Homo sapiens: one gene and its partner. The protein of the gene in region 1 purifies or fractionates together with the protein of each later gene. This does not show direct contact. Each region holds a gene or a part of one and is shown on either strand. Other genes may lie near its edges.

Region 1 (5,737 bases):
GGCAGATGGCATCCTCAGGCTAGGGCCACGGGCACAATTGTGAGCTCCAGCCTCCTGTGTTACAAGCTAAAAGAGGCTCCCCAGTCTGAAGAGATGAGCATGCTCAGACATTGGACTGCTTGGCAGGCCTCAGTAGTGGGCACAGGTTGGCAGGGAGCAAATGGAGCAGCCCAAACAGAGGAAACGCGGAGGAGGAGAGGCCCAGACAGACGGTGCTGTAACCCAGACAGCTCATCTCAGGGGCCCAAGGAGAATATTCTGATGTGCAGAGTTGGAAATCTGGATTTGTATGTGCAGTATCTTGATTCTGAATGCACTGGGCAGGCTGAACCAAACATCTTTGGTTTAAATTGGGCTCAAAGAGCCATTAGTTTGGCACCTCTCCTCCCACCCTCACAAAACAACAAAACAAGCAGAAAGAAGCATGAGCAGGAAAGGGCTGTCCTGGGGAACTACACTGGGGGTGGGGTGGGGGGAGAGGTTAAAATAAAGCACAAACCCAGATTCCAAAGTTCTGTATTTTTCAAAATAAAGATCACACATTGTTTAGAGACAATCTACACAAGAGTTACAAAAAATAGTTGCCCAGGCATAAGCATACACAGGTTTGTTAATTATACACATATGGTTACAAGTGTGCTTGCAAAAAAGTTCATTGGAAATATACACAAGGCTCTGGAAATGTACACCGTGTAGTGTTACAATTCTATATTCAAACAAGGAAAATTGACAGTATGTTACATTCACTTACAAGTAGACAAAATGCAAAATACAGTTCATCTTCTGTACAAAAGGGAAGGGCGATTCACACTTTACAAGGTGAGAGGGGCTCTGATTGTAAGGAAAGCTCGGGCAAGGCTAGACTTTTGCACGTCCTTTTGACTGTCACAAAATCAAAACATTACTTTTTTAGGATTAAAAAAACACTAGTGAGAACTCAATCTTGAATAACATTTAGAAAGAATCTCGCTATACTTGAGACTAGATGACAAATAAAACCAAGCTATTTTTTTCTTTTTAAACATTAACTAGGCTGTATAAAGAACATTTATTCCTTCAAAAGAAAAAAATTTACTTCTGGTTGAAATTACAATTTACAATATACAACACTATATGCTACGACCATAAAAGGTGAGAATATACACTGAATGCACAGGGCTGGCTAATTCTCTTTTCTTACCAAAAAACGTGTTTATGTTGATTCAAACTTCTCCACATTTACATTACAGGTATACAAATGTACAATTGTACAATCAAAAGTATGTTCGACTACTAGGGTACATTATAGATACAGATTAGACATCAAAACAAGAAAATACTACAAATTTGTATATATGCAAAGTCTACACCAAGTATACACTATATATTTATAGAAGCAAGACCAAAAGCAGAGTTGGATTTTTTTTTCTCATGCTAAATAATCAGATTTTACCTTTCAATGTTAATAGAAAAAAATCCAGTAGGCAGTAAACAATCACACCCGCCCAGCCTCAAAAGACGTTCTGGGTGCTCGCATCTCCTCCTCACGAACAGCCTTCTTCAGCATAATATAGTCTCCAAAAAAGGCATTTTTTAGAATTTCATAAACTTAATGTCACAAACTGAAGCTTTAGCAACTCTGAAACCTTTTTCATTATATATATATATATATATATATATATTTTTTATAAACAGTGTTAAATGCCAGTTTGGGGTCATTTAACTACAATTCAAACTTCTCAGGTTTTTTTGTTTTTGTTTGTTTTTTACTAAAATGAGGAGGTGGGGAAGAGCTATTTGCAAAACTTGCCGGCCAGGCAAATGAGCTAAAAACCTTTTCCTTTTTTTCTTTTTTTTTTAAAGCTTTTTTTTTTTGTTAAACCAACCACCCTGAAAGTTTCCACATGTGAAATATAGATACAACAGTGAACAAAATATGTGGCCTCCCATGTACATTGGTTACCTATGTACAAGTATCCTATACACCAGTAAAACAGCAGGGCAATTAGTCAATTAAAAAAAATAGTACATGTTATGTGTAATAAAATTAAATTTACAAAGGCTTTTCCACTCGTGGATTTGATTCCTTTTTTGGAGGAGGGAGTAATCCTGGAGCAACCACTTGCCCGTCTCAGACTCTACACTAGAACATTTCTGGTTGCTGGTTGGATTTGCCAGTGGGCCAGTGAGGTCAGCGGGAATGAGGGAACAGCGGGTGACACTGCCTCAGATGATACCATTAGGGGGGCCACAGATGGGCCCTAAGTCAACACCGTTCTTCATGTAGTACTTCTCCAGCTTGGCCAGAATGTGCTTGCCATAGGTGTACTTACGAAGAGTTGCGATGTGGGGCCGGATCTGGGGAGGAAAGACAGTCTGTGTTACATGGCCTGAGATGAGACTTGGGGGCAGGCTTCCCGGACATGCATTTGCATGTCATGCATCACACACACATACACACACACACACACACACACACACACACACACACACACACACACCCCTACAGCAATACCTTTCACTGGCTCAGCCCAGTCCCCTGACTTCTAGCACTTTGGCAACCCATCAGATGAGGAGAGGAGCTCCTACCCTGAGTGGTGCCACAGGGCCTGAGGACCCTGGAGGCTGGGTGGCCATGGGCCACTCCCAGGACAACACATGGAGAAAGTGCATCCTAGCTGGGAAAATACACTGCCCACTACCCGCCAGCTGCACAGTGCTTCCCTGCAAGCATGAGCACAGGCCCCTCTGGCCCCATGCACGGCATCCAGGCTCTCCTGAGCAGTGGGGGTTATTTCGGGTCACCAGAATCCTGAGCTCACCACTTGACCCTGTCTCTCCAGGTCACAGTGGATCACAGAAAGCTAATCAATGACAAGAAGAGAAATGATGAACATCATGAGCTGGTGTGATTATCCCCATCTTACTGACAGAAAACATGAAGGCACAGAGTAGTTAAGTCACTCAGCCAAGGTTGAATGGCTAACAAAGGACAGCACAGATAGCTGAGCCCAAACTGTGTGGCTCCTCCACGAATCAGGTTTCTCCCCACTGTGCTCTCAAGGCACGCCCGCCACACCAGCCTCATCCCTCAGGCTCTCCGACCTATGCTCTGAGTCACTTCTCCAAGCATTCCTTTCTGTTCTTCCTTCCCTGGGCTGATCATTTCAAGAAGTCCTACATTCCAGAAAACTTGAGAGGTGCTTCTTCTCTGGAAGCCCCTTTTCTTTTCTGTGAGCTCAGGGAGCATTCTACATACCTCAGCTGTGTCTGCTATCTTTTGCTTAATTATCAATCTTTCCATATAAACAGTAAAGGACCACAGTTTATTCATCAGATTCCCCATCCAAACCTGCACCTGCATACATAAACGCACTGGATAAATGTACCGCAGTAGACAGAGGCTCTCCAGGTTGAGAGCTCCATGAGGGCACCAATTTTTGTCTGTTTAGCTGTGTCCTCAAAGCAAGGAAGGGTTGATCCGGTCTAGAAATCACCTGCGCATGCTTCCCAGGACACAGAGCTGCATCGGGTGTCACATTCCCACTTTGGAGCCTACAGGGGAAACTGGCTGGTGGCAAACAGTCCTTGGTTCCAGTTTCACCTCCCTTAAACTCACCTGTAAAACGGCGTATGCAATAATGCTATACTTTCCTTTCAGTTGTAATACTATGTTACTAATGTTTCTGTCATGAGAACTTGAGGTTCAAGATCCCCTTGCTTTTGGTAGCTTTCCTTTTAGAAAATAACTGAAATCCAATCCATTCCTCTGTCCCTGGAACTGGCTGCTGACAAGTCCAGGCACTTCACCTTTGTACTTCCCCAGAACAAAACAAAACAAAAAACCCCTAACAAGCCACACACACACATGTTGAACTCCATTTTTTATTGGATTTAACAAGAAGTGAAACGTTAATTACCTGCTTCTCTCCTTATGTCCCTTTTGCTGAAAAGGATACCACTTAGTAATGGAAGAGCTGAAAAACTAAGAGGGCTTCTCAGGACTCTCCCCGTCAACTCCCTCAGCCAACCAACTGCTAAGCCCTACCAATTCTAGCACCCTATTCTGTCCACTTCTCTTCAATCCCAAACCACCACCATCTGGTGCCTTGACGGCCTCCCATGTGGTCTCATCACTGCCTCCCTCCTCTAAACTACAAAGGCCACATGGCAGCCAGGACAATTATTTGAAATATACGTGTGATTTTGTCACCACACTCCTCCTCCACTGAACTTGTTTTACTTCTTCAGATACAACACGGTCTGGTCTCTGGCGTCCAAGTCTTCACACACCACGTTCCCTCTTCTGGAAAGGGTCATCACTCTATTAAGTATCACTCCGTTAGAGAGCCTCCTCTGTACCCACACGTTATAGAAGACACCCTGCCCATTCCTGGACAACCCTTTCCCCTGTATTTCTCCAGTGTCCCAGTAACTATCTGTGCACAGCACTATCACGTTTACCAATACAACCCTGCTGAGAATACGACCTGCTGTACAACAGGTGTTTAGCACTGAATGAATGAATGAATAGACATGTCTTAAGCTCCTACTTACCTCCAACATTCCCTCTGCCTTCACCAGCATCCTGAAAACTTACAACTTTAAGAACCTGGGACTCCCCCAGCCTTCAACTGCCACTGCCAACACCAGTGCAGTGGTTTGGATTGGTTTAGCTTGACTCAGGGGTGGTGGGTGTCTTGTCTGGCTCAGAACTTGAGTCCATTAACAAAGATTCTCATTACCGAACTTTGTTCTCAGTGAGGGCAAGTGGGTCATCATTGCCAGACAATGGCCAACCAACCCCTCAATTGAGAAGGGCTCAGTGAGTTCAGAGCCCAAAAGCTGCAGGCTCAGATGAGAAGCACCGGAGGCTGGAGGCACTGCCCAGCACAAACACAACTGTAGCACACCCTGCCTGTGGGTCTGTTTTGCCTCCTGGGCCCTGTGGTGTCTGCAGTGCTCACTGGACCCACGCCGTGACTTGTCAAGAAGCTGTGGGCCTGTTCAGGTGACTTCTCTTTCAGTTCCCCACTCACAGCACCTAAGCATTCTCATTTCTGTTCCTTCTTCCCTGTCTAACTCTTCTTTAGCCTTGCCTTCTCCTGCAAAGCCGGCCCTCAGGGACTCTGGGAAGGGTGAGGGGTCCTTCTCATGTCCTCACCACTGCTCACCACCATGGCTCTTCCCCACCAGAATGTACTCTGTGGGCAGGGATCAGGTGTTAGTCATCTCTGTGCTGATGAAGTCTGGCACAGAGTGGGCTTCAGGTCAATGTACCAGGCTATGCACCATGCTGGGCAGGCCTTTGTTCAATAGATGTTGGTGGGATGAAAGAACAGAAGGGAGGAGTGAGAAAAGGAAATGAGGCAAGTTGATTTGTTGGACTCATAAGCTGATTCTCTAGAGATCAGGGATGGAAATATTTCAAAAAATGTAGCTTAAGATTCTCATACCAGTGTGGCTATTGATAAGGGAGGGTTGGCAAATGTGTAAGGACAATGGTGACTCCACATAAAAGAAAAACAGAACACAGCATGGGACAGAGGTCAGTGACAAACTCTTCAAAAACAGCAGGGCACCCACCCTCCTTTGTGTTTCAGAAAGGAAGCCAAGGCCTTGCACACTTTCTCTGAGACCCTGCCCAGCCCGGCCTACCTTATGCATGACGATCTTCCGCTGGCCTGGCTCCGCCACGTCAATCATCTTCTGGACCACGTAGTTGGCATACTGGTCCTTCATCATGGTGTATAAGGCA
Region 2 (7,300 bases), on another chromosome or scaffold:
CTTGAAGGCAGCAAAGTGTGAACCAGCCCTTGGGGAGAATAATGAACATCAGGAATAACATACTCAATGATTTCTGAGGTGTCAGAAAAGCCCGGCTGGCACTGGGGGCTGACATGCCCATCATGGCAGGATCTCTAAGTTCTGAGTTTCCTCCAGCCCAGTGGAAGGACAAAGAAGGCAGGTAGAGGGGCTTAAGTTTGGACATGTGGGGGTGAACATGGTCAATGAAATGGGTTGAGGTGAGATGAGGCTGCAGAACTACCCTCAGACGGTCCAAGCTGAACAGAATGAAACGGATCCACTTCAGGAGACTGGTGGCCCCCATGAAGTTAGAGTGTGGGTGTCCTATGTAAAGAAGGGAGAGGACTCAGGGACGGGGGAGAGGGTGTTGGTGTTTAAGATTTCCAGGGTTAGCTAAGCATGGTAGTAGTCCCAGCTACTCAGGAGGCTGAGGTGGGAGGATTGCTTGAGCCCAGAAGTTTGAGACCACCTTGGGCAACATAACGAGAGCTCATCTCTAAACGAATAAAAAATGAAAGATTTCCAGGGCCGAGAAGGTTCACAGCACGGCCAAGACAATGGGTGTCTAAAGTGGAGTTAAGGTCAAGGTCATCAGATTTGCACATCCATCATCTAGCAGGTGCTATTCCTGAGAATGGACCCTCTCCATCCCCTGGGATGACAGAGCAGGGGCCACTTTTGAATGGGCATGATTCAAACCATGCAGGGGAGTGACACTTCTGGCAGCAGATGGTGGCAGTGTTGGATGGCATGAGCCCCGAATGAGAAGGGCAGGTGACAGGAAGGTGATGTCACTGGAGCTGCTTTTCTGTTTTGGGGTGAGCAGGATGTGGGGTATAGAACAGGCAGCCTCTCGTCCCTCTGGGTTTCAGAGGAAGTGGAATTCTTAGGTCAGTGTTCTTCAAAAGCATCAGAATCACCCAGGGAGCCTGGCAAAATGGGGATTCTTCACATCCCTTCCCCACCACATACACCTCCGACCTGCTGGAGTCTTTTCCCATGGCTGCCATAACAAAGGACCGCAAGCTGGGTAGTTTAAATCCCGGAGGCTGCTAGCGGGAAGCCAAGGTGTCGGCAGGGCTACGCTCCCTCTGAAAGCTCTAGGGAAGAATTCCTCCTTGCCTCTCCCAGCTTCTGATGCTGACGGCAACCTCCGCTGTAGCTTGTAGCTGCATTGCTCCAACCTCTGTCTCGGTCTTCACATGCATGGCCATCTTCCCTGTGTCTCCTCTGTGCCGCTGTCTCCAAATCTTCCTTTTCTTTTCTTTCTTTCTTTTTCTTTTTTCTTTTTTTTGAGACATCTTGCTCTGTCACCCAGGCTGGAGTGCAGTGGCATGATCCCAGCTCACTGCAACCTCTGCCTCCTGGGTTCAAGCGATTCTTCTGCCTCAGCTTCCCGAGAAGCTGGGATTACAGGCATATGCCACCACGCCCAGCTAATTTTTGTACGTTTAGTAGAGATGGGGTTCGCCATGTTGGCCAGGCTGGTCTCAAACTCCTGGCCTCAAGTGATCTGCCCACCTTGGCCTCCCAAAGTGCTGAGATTACAGGCATGAGCCACCACGCCCAGCCCAAATATTCCTTTTTTTCTAAGAATATGAGCCATAGGATTTAGGGCATATCACAATTGAGTATGACTTCATCTTACCTTGATTAAATCTGCAAATATTTTATTTCCAAGTAAGGCCACATTCACAGGTATGGGGGGCAGTGAGGATTTCAACACACCTTTTGTGGTGGACATAATTCAACCCATTGTATCTGCTAGCTGTAATCTTTCAAGTGAGTGAAGCTGGTAAATTAGTTCTTTTTGTTTTGTTCTGTTTTGTTTGAGACAGGGTCTTGCTATGTTACTCAGGCTAGAGTGTAGTGGCACGATTACAGCTCAATGTAGCCTTGAACTACTGGGCTCAAATGATTTACCTCAGCCTCTGAGGTAGTTAGGACTATAGGCATGCGCCATCACACCTGACTACTTCTTAAATTTTCTGTAGAGACGCGGTTTCATTATGTTGCCCAGGCTGGTCTCAACCTCCTGGCCTCAAGTGATCCTCCTGTCTTGGCCTCCCAAAGCCCTGGGGTTACAGGCACCCTGAGCTACCCTGCTCAGCGGTAAACTGGTATTTTTAATAAGCCCCAACCAGACAATGCAACCCAGGAGAACCATCTCTTGGACGGAACCAGCAGAGCCTGAGAATCCAGCGGGGATGGCTCCCTAGAATGGGGTTCTGGTGAGCCCGGGAGTTGCGGGGGAGCGTAGGACTAGCTCAAAGCAGTACCCAAGGAAGAAGCTCTCATCACCGGCAAAGAAAAGGATGCATGACTCTGCCAGATGATCTGGGCCAAGGCTGTAGTGTGGCCCTGGATGAAGTAAGGCATCTGTGGCTTACGGCCTCTGCGGCAGAGAACTGCTTCCCGGTGAGCTCGTGGTGGGTGGAGGCGGGGAGGAAGAGTCGGTTCTGAGGATGGTGGCCTCCCACCGACGCAGCGGGGATCGGCCTCTGTCCCGCCCAGCCACTTGATTTCCAAGTTCTGCAGAGCTCTGTCCAAGGTCTCTTTCACTTTTTTCCTGAGCTCTCCCTTCGGGGTTAATCTCACCTCTTACGGAGGCTTCGAACACCATTTACATGCTGATGGCACCCAGATTTGCATCTCTGAGCCCCATCCCCACACCAAATTCCGGACCTGTTTCCCTATTAACTTTGGTCTGGAATATCCGGCAGACCTGAGATTTGCAACTCTGAGCCCCACCCCCACACCATCCGGCAGACCTCAGATTTAACATTTCCAAAGCTGAACTCACCCCGAAACTTGTTTGCCTTTCAGCAGTTCTTAGATAAATTATTAGCATCGCTCCTCATTCCCTCCCCCACCCCCCACCCCCGCAAACTGGAAACCTGGGGGTCATCTTATCCTTCTTCCTCTCCTTCCTACGTGCTAAATCACACCAAATCCCTTCCCTGGGCTGCATTCCCCTTGCTTTCAGTTCAAGTACATCTCCGGGCTTGACTAGTACAATACCCTCTTAATGAGAACCGTGACCCTGTCTTCCCCTCTGGGAGAAGCCATCCTCCAGTGGCAGGCGCCTGTAATCCCAGCTACTGGGGAGGCTGAGGCAGGAGAATCACCTGAACCCAGGAGGCGGAGGTTGCAGTGAGCCGAGATCGCGCCACTGCACTCCAGCCTGGCGACAGAGTGGGACTCCGTCTCAAAATAAATAAATAAATAAATATAAAATAAAAGAATGCAGACTAACACGTTCTTTGCAAACTTACTACAGGGTATGAAGAAAGTACACAAAGACAGGAGCAGCCTGTCTTCGAGGTGGCATCACTTCTGCATCCAGCCCAGGATTAAAACCCGGAGCAACTGGCAAGCGGAAATGTTAACGAAAAGGGCATCTGCGTAGCGTGCCAACCTGCCGTGCCACGTAAAGCACGGTCCAGTGACCCAAAACATTTCTGCTCCCAAATAACATTTGGAAAATGCTGACCTACTGCCTAGAAAAGTTCGATCGGCATTCCTGCACACTGCTGTTTTAGAGAGAAGCCCTAAACGATATCTGAAAGTATTTGGTTTATTTTCATCAGCAATGCTTTAGAATCTCGAAAGCCCAGAAAAAAGTTATTTCACGACGTGAAGCTCCCCCCTCGATGTCAATTCGAACACATCCAGGGTTGCGGCTGCCATGTTCGCTCGAACATGTGCAGGACAAACAATGCAACCAGCGGGGAACCGTAAACCTTTTTCCTCGACTTCCTACCACGCACATGAAGTGTTCAAGAAACTTTGCAGGACGTCTCCACATTTCACGAGGCTCCCGTGAACTCCGGAGCCGAGCTAAACAATAGGAAGGACAGATGCTGGGAGTCCCCAAGCATCTAACGCGCCGTTTGTGTTTTCAAAAAACCTCTGCCTGGCGCCCAGGCGGCTTTTCCTGGGCTCCTAGCCTCCTGTGCAAATTGTTCCCATGGTCATTGTCTTCCAGGACGCTCCGCTGCGCACTCGGGGAGCGGGGACAGCGCCCCGCAGAGCGCCGCGCGGTCGAGCCCGGCCAGGTGGCGGAAACGTTCCCGGCCCTTGCAGCGGGGCCCGGGAAAAAGGTGGCCCGGGCGCCAAGGGCGGCTGCCAATGCAACTCGCAACTTTTGAAATCAATCCTTTTTTGCATCATGCAACGGATGCCACCGCTCCTCGGGTTTGCAACCCCCCACCCCTCCCCCGAGACCAATCATTGCCGCGCTCGGGGCTGCACGGCGCCCCCGCCCCCTTCCCGGGCCGCACGCCGCCACCCAGCAGCCAGGGCCGCCTCTTAAAGGGAGGTGGCCGGCCTTAAAGGACCCCCGCGCGCCCAGCCGGCGGGAGCGCGGCGGCCCGGCTCCCGCAGGGCCGCGCCGAGGCAGGCGAGCCCCCGCGGCGCCCAGGCGCGGGCCCGGGCCCCCGCCGCCGCCGCCGCCGCCGGGCGCGGCATTTTTATTCAGGCGACGCTTAAGGGAGCCCGGCCGCGCCCGGTGCATTGTGGGAGCGGCCCGCGGCCCGTTTTCGGGAGGAGGCGGAGGGCGCAAAGCGAGCCGGTAAGCGGCGGGCCCGGCGCGGGGGGGAGGCGCAGGCTTAAAGGGGAATCTGGGTCCGCAGGCCCGCGGCGGCCGTTGCAAATCCCCCTCCGGGCCGCCCGGGACCGCCGGGGAGCCGCGCGCCGCCGGCCCCGCCAGCCCTGCCTGGAGAGGGGCAGCGCCGGGCTTGGTGGGGCCGCTTTAAAAAAGAAGCGCCGCCCGCGCCGCCGCCGCCGCCGCGCGGGGCCGGGGAAGGAGGGAGGGAGGGCGGGGAGGAGCGGAGGGGAGGGCGGCGGCGGCCACGCAGGGGTTAATTTTTTCGCCCGCCGACATTTTTGCGCGGCGGCGGCGGCGGCCCGTGCGCGCGGCGGGAGCGGCCGGCCTGGGGTCGCGGGGTGCCTCCGGGGCCTCCCCGCCTCCCCTTTTCTCCGCGCGGGCCCTGTCGACCCGGGGCGGGTGCGTCCCGGCGTCCTCCCCGGCTCCTGGGCCGCACGCGCGGTGCCCGCCGGCTCCCGCCGCCTCCCGCCGGCCCGAACAGGGATGGCCCGGCCGGGGCCCCGAGCTGCCGCCTCCGCCCCGCCGCCGGCCCGCAGCCCGGGCCTGCTGGGCCTTCCGAGGCGGCGGCGAGGGCCTGAGCCTGAGCCTGAGCCCGAAGGTGTCCCCGGGTTCCTTGCTCCCCTCCCCGGCCGCCTCCGACGCGGGCGTCCTGGAGAGCGCGCCCCATTGTGCGGGGCCGGCGGGGAGGTAGGTCCGGGGTTGGCGGGGCAGCGCGCCGGGCCCACCCCGCTGACCGGCTCCCCGGCTCCCCACGCTCGTTGGAAGAAAAAAAAAAACCAAACCATGGAAATGTGCCCGGGAAGGAAAGGGCTAAACGTTGCTTTAAATATTCATGCCATTGTTTTAAAGGCGTAAACATGTGGCTGCGGGGTCGCCGGGCACCGTCCCTTATTAATGCAAATGGATCCCCCTGGTTCCCTAATCACTGCACATTTCCCCCAGAACCCCCTCCCCCTTCCCATGCCCTCCAAAAATGTAAGAATCTAGTACTTTTTTCATTAGGATGTGAGGCTGATTTGTGTCCTTAGTACCATTTGGAATTTTAAATCTGAGCGCCTTCCTGATACAAGGTGTTTTAAACTTTTTTCCACCCTTAAAACTCTTGAGAAGATAGTAATTTAAAAGGAAGTGATAGCCACACAATTCCCCTCCCCACCTTTTTGGGAGCCAGGAGAGGAATAGATAGGAGGTAGGAAAATAACTGGATGCCTCGTGAGTTGGATTTTTTCTTTTTCTTTTTTTTTTCCTGGTAGGGGTGAGGCTGTGTTAAATGCGAGGTGTTTTTTGAGGAAAGGACTTTGTTGTTTTTGTTGAAAACGCCTTCCAAGTCAAAGTGGTATTCAAACTTTCCCATAACTCTAAGATGGCTTCAAAATTCTCGTCTCTTGTCACTTGCGGCCAGCGCCTGCTCTTTTTGGGCAGGGAGACTTCTTGGAATCGTGTTCGAAGGCTGACTCCTGCTCAGTTGTTACGTTTCCCACCGAAATCATTGCTCATCCCAAACCGTGTTTTTGTGAAGACGGTTTGGATTACTGCCCAAACTCGGGCTTCGTGAGATTTATATGAGCGATGTGCGTCCCAAGGGATGGAAAACTCTATAAATGGGAATTATGTTCTTAATCATAAATTTTATAGGGGAAACCGACCTTAAAACTTGGGGTGTTTGTAATTCTAGTCCCAATAAAGTATCAGTCTGGAGGTTTGTAAACTCGAGGAACACATGTTGTTTTTTCCTTTAGCCCCAAAGGCTAAAAAACGTAGGAGTGCTTGTTCCAGAAACCTAACGGTGGTACACAGGGCCGAAATGCTGCTGATTTAGTATGGCTTAATTTATTGTTTCGGTTCTGCAATGAAATGTTAATGAGGAGTAGCATATTTTGTCAATGATGTGTGTACTAGTTTGTTGGGCTGGATGTTTTGCTTTCTAGGAAATAGCACTGCGTGAAAACATCAGAGAACTTTCCAGGCTTTCGCCTGAAGAACACAGACCTTACTGTGTTAAACTGCCACTGTAGTTTTTAAGTTGTGCCCTTTAGAGAGGACTCCTATTAGTTTTGGATTGCATTGTGTATTTTTTTATTTTTTATTTGAGACGGAGTCTCACTCTCGCCCAGGCTGGAGTGCAGTGGCTCGATCTCGGCTCACTGCAACCTCCGCCTCCCAGGTTCAAGCGATTCTCTTGCCTCAGCCTCCCAAGTAGCTGGGATTACAGGTGCGCACCACCACGCCCAGCTAATTTTTGTATTTTTAGTAGAGACGGGGTTTCGCCATGTTGGCCAGGCTTGTGTCCTGACTTCAGGTGATCCACCCGCGTTGGCCTCCCAAAGTGCCGAGATTGTAGGCATGAGCCACCACGCCCATCCTTGTGTTGTATATTCTTTGGGCTCAGAGGGAAAACGTGTTTTTCTAAAATAAGGATTTAGCATCGTGAAGAATTTTGTCCAATGCATTTACATTAATGCCCTTTTCTGACAAGTTTGTATCGGGCGTTTCATTCTTCTGTGTGATAAAGCAAAAGATATCAAAAGATTTTGCGGAAAAGTCACCTTAGCGAGGACCGCCGCTTTCTGAACCACAGTGCTTCCAGGTTGACACATGAAGTGCCCAGAGGTGCTGTTCTAATGCTGAGTCCTAGAAGAACCTTTGGGATTTGCTGTTCAAGGTGGCACG

The links. The genes of interacting proteins can lie anywhere in the genome.
Region 2: the proteins of PUM1 (region 1) and SEPHS1 fractionate together in Homo sapiens (co-fractionation; 2 studies listed by BioGRID). This does not show direct contact.

Annotation. Positions count from the first base shown.
Region 1 is NC_000001.11:30,931,006-30,936,742, forward strand, and holds the end of PUM1 (pumilio homolog 1), read right to left. Parts: coding exon 5,638-5,737; intron 4,772-5,637; exon of another isoform or gene 4,684-4,771; intron 2,338-4,683; coding exon 2,206-2,337; 3' UTR 501-2,205; downstream 1-500. UniProt on the Homo sapiens protein: Sequence-specific RNA-binding protein that acts as a post-transcriptional repressor by binding the 3'-UTR of mRNA targets.
Region 2 is NC_000010.11:13,345,294-13,352,593, reverse strand, and holds the start of SEPHS1 (selenide, water dikinase 1), read left to right. Parts: upstream 1-4,300; 5' UTR 4,301-4,594; intron 4,595-4,894; exon of another isoform or gene 4,895-5,317; intron 5,318-7,300. UniProt on the Homo sapiens protein: Synthesizes selenophosphate from selenide and ATP.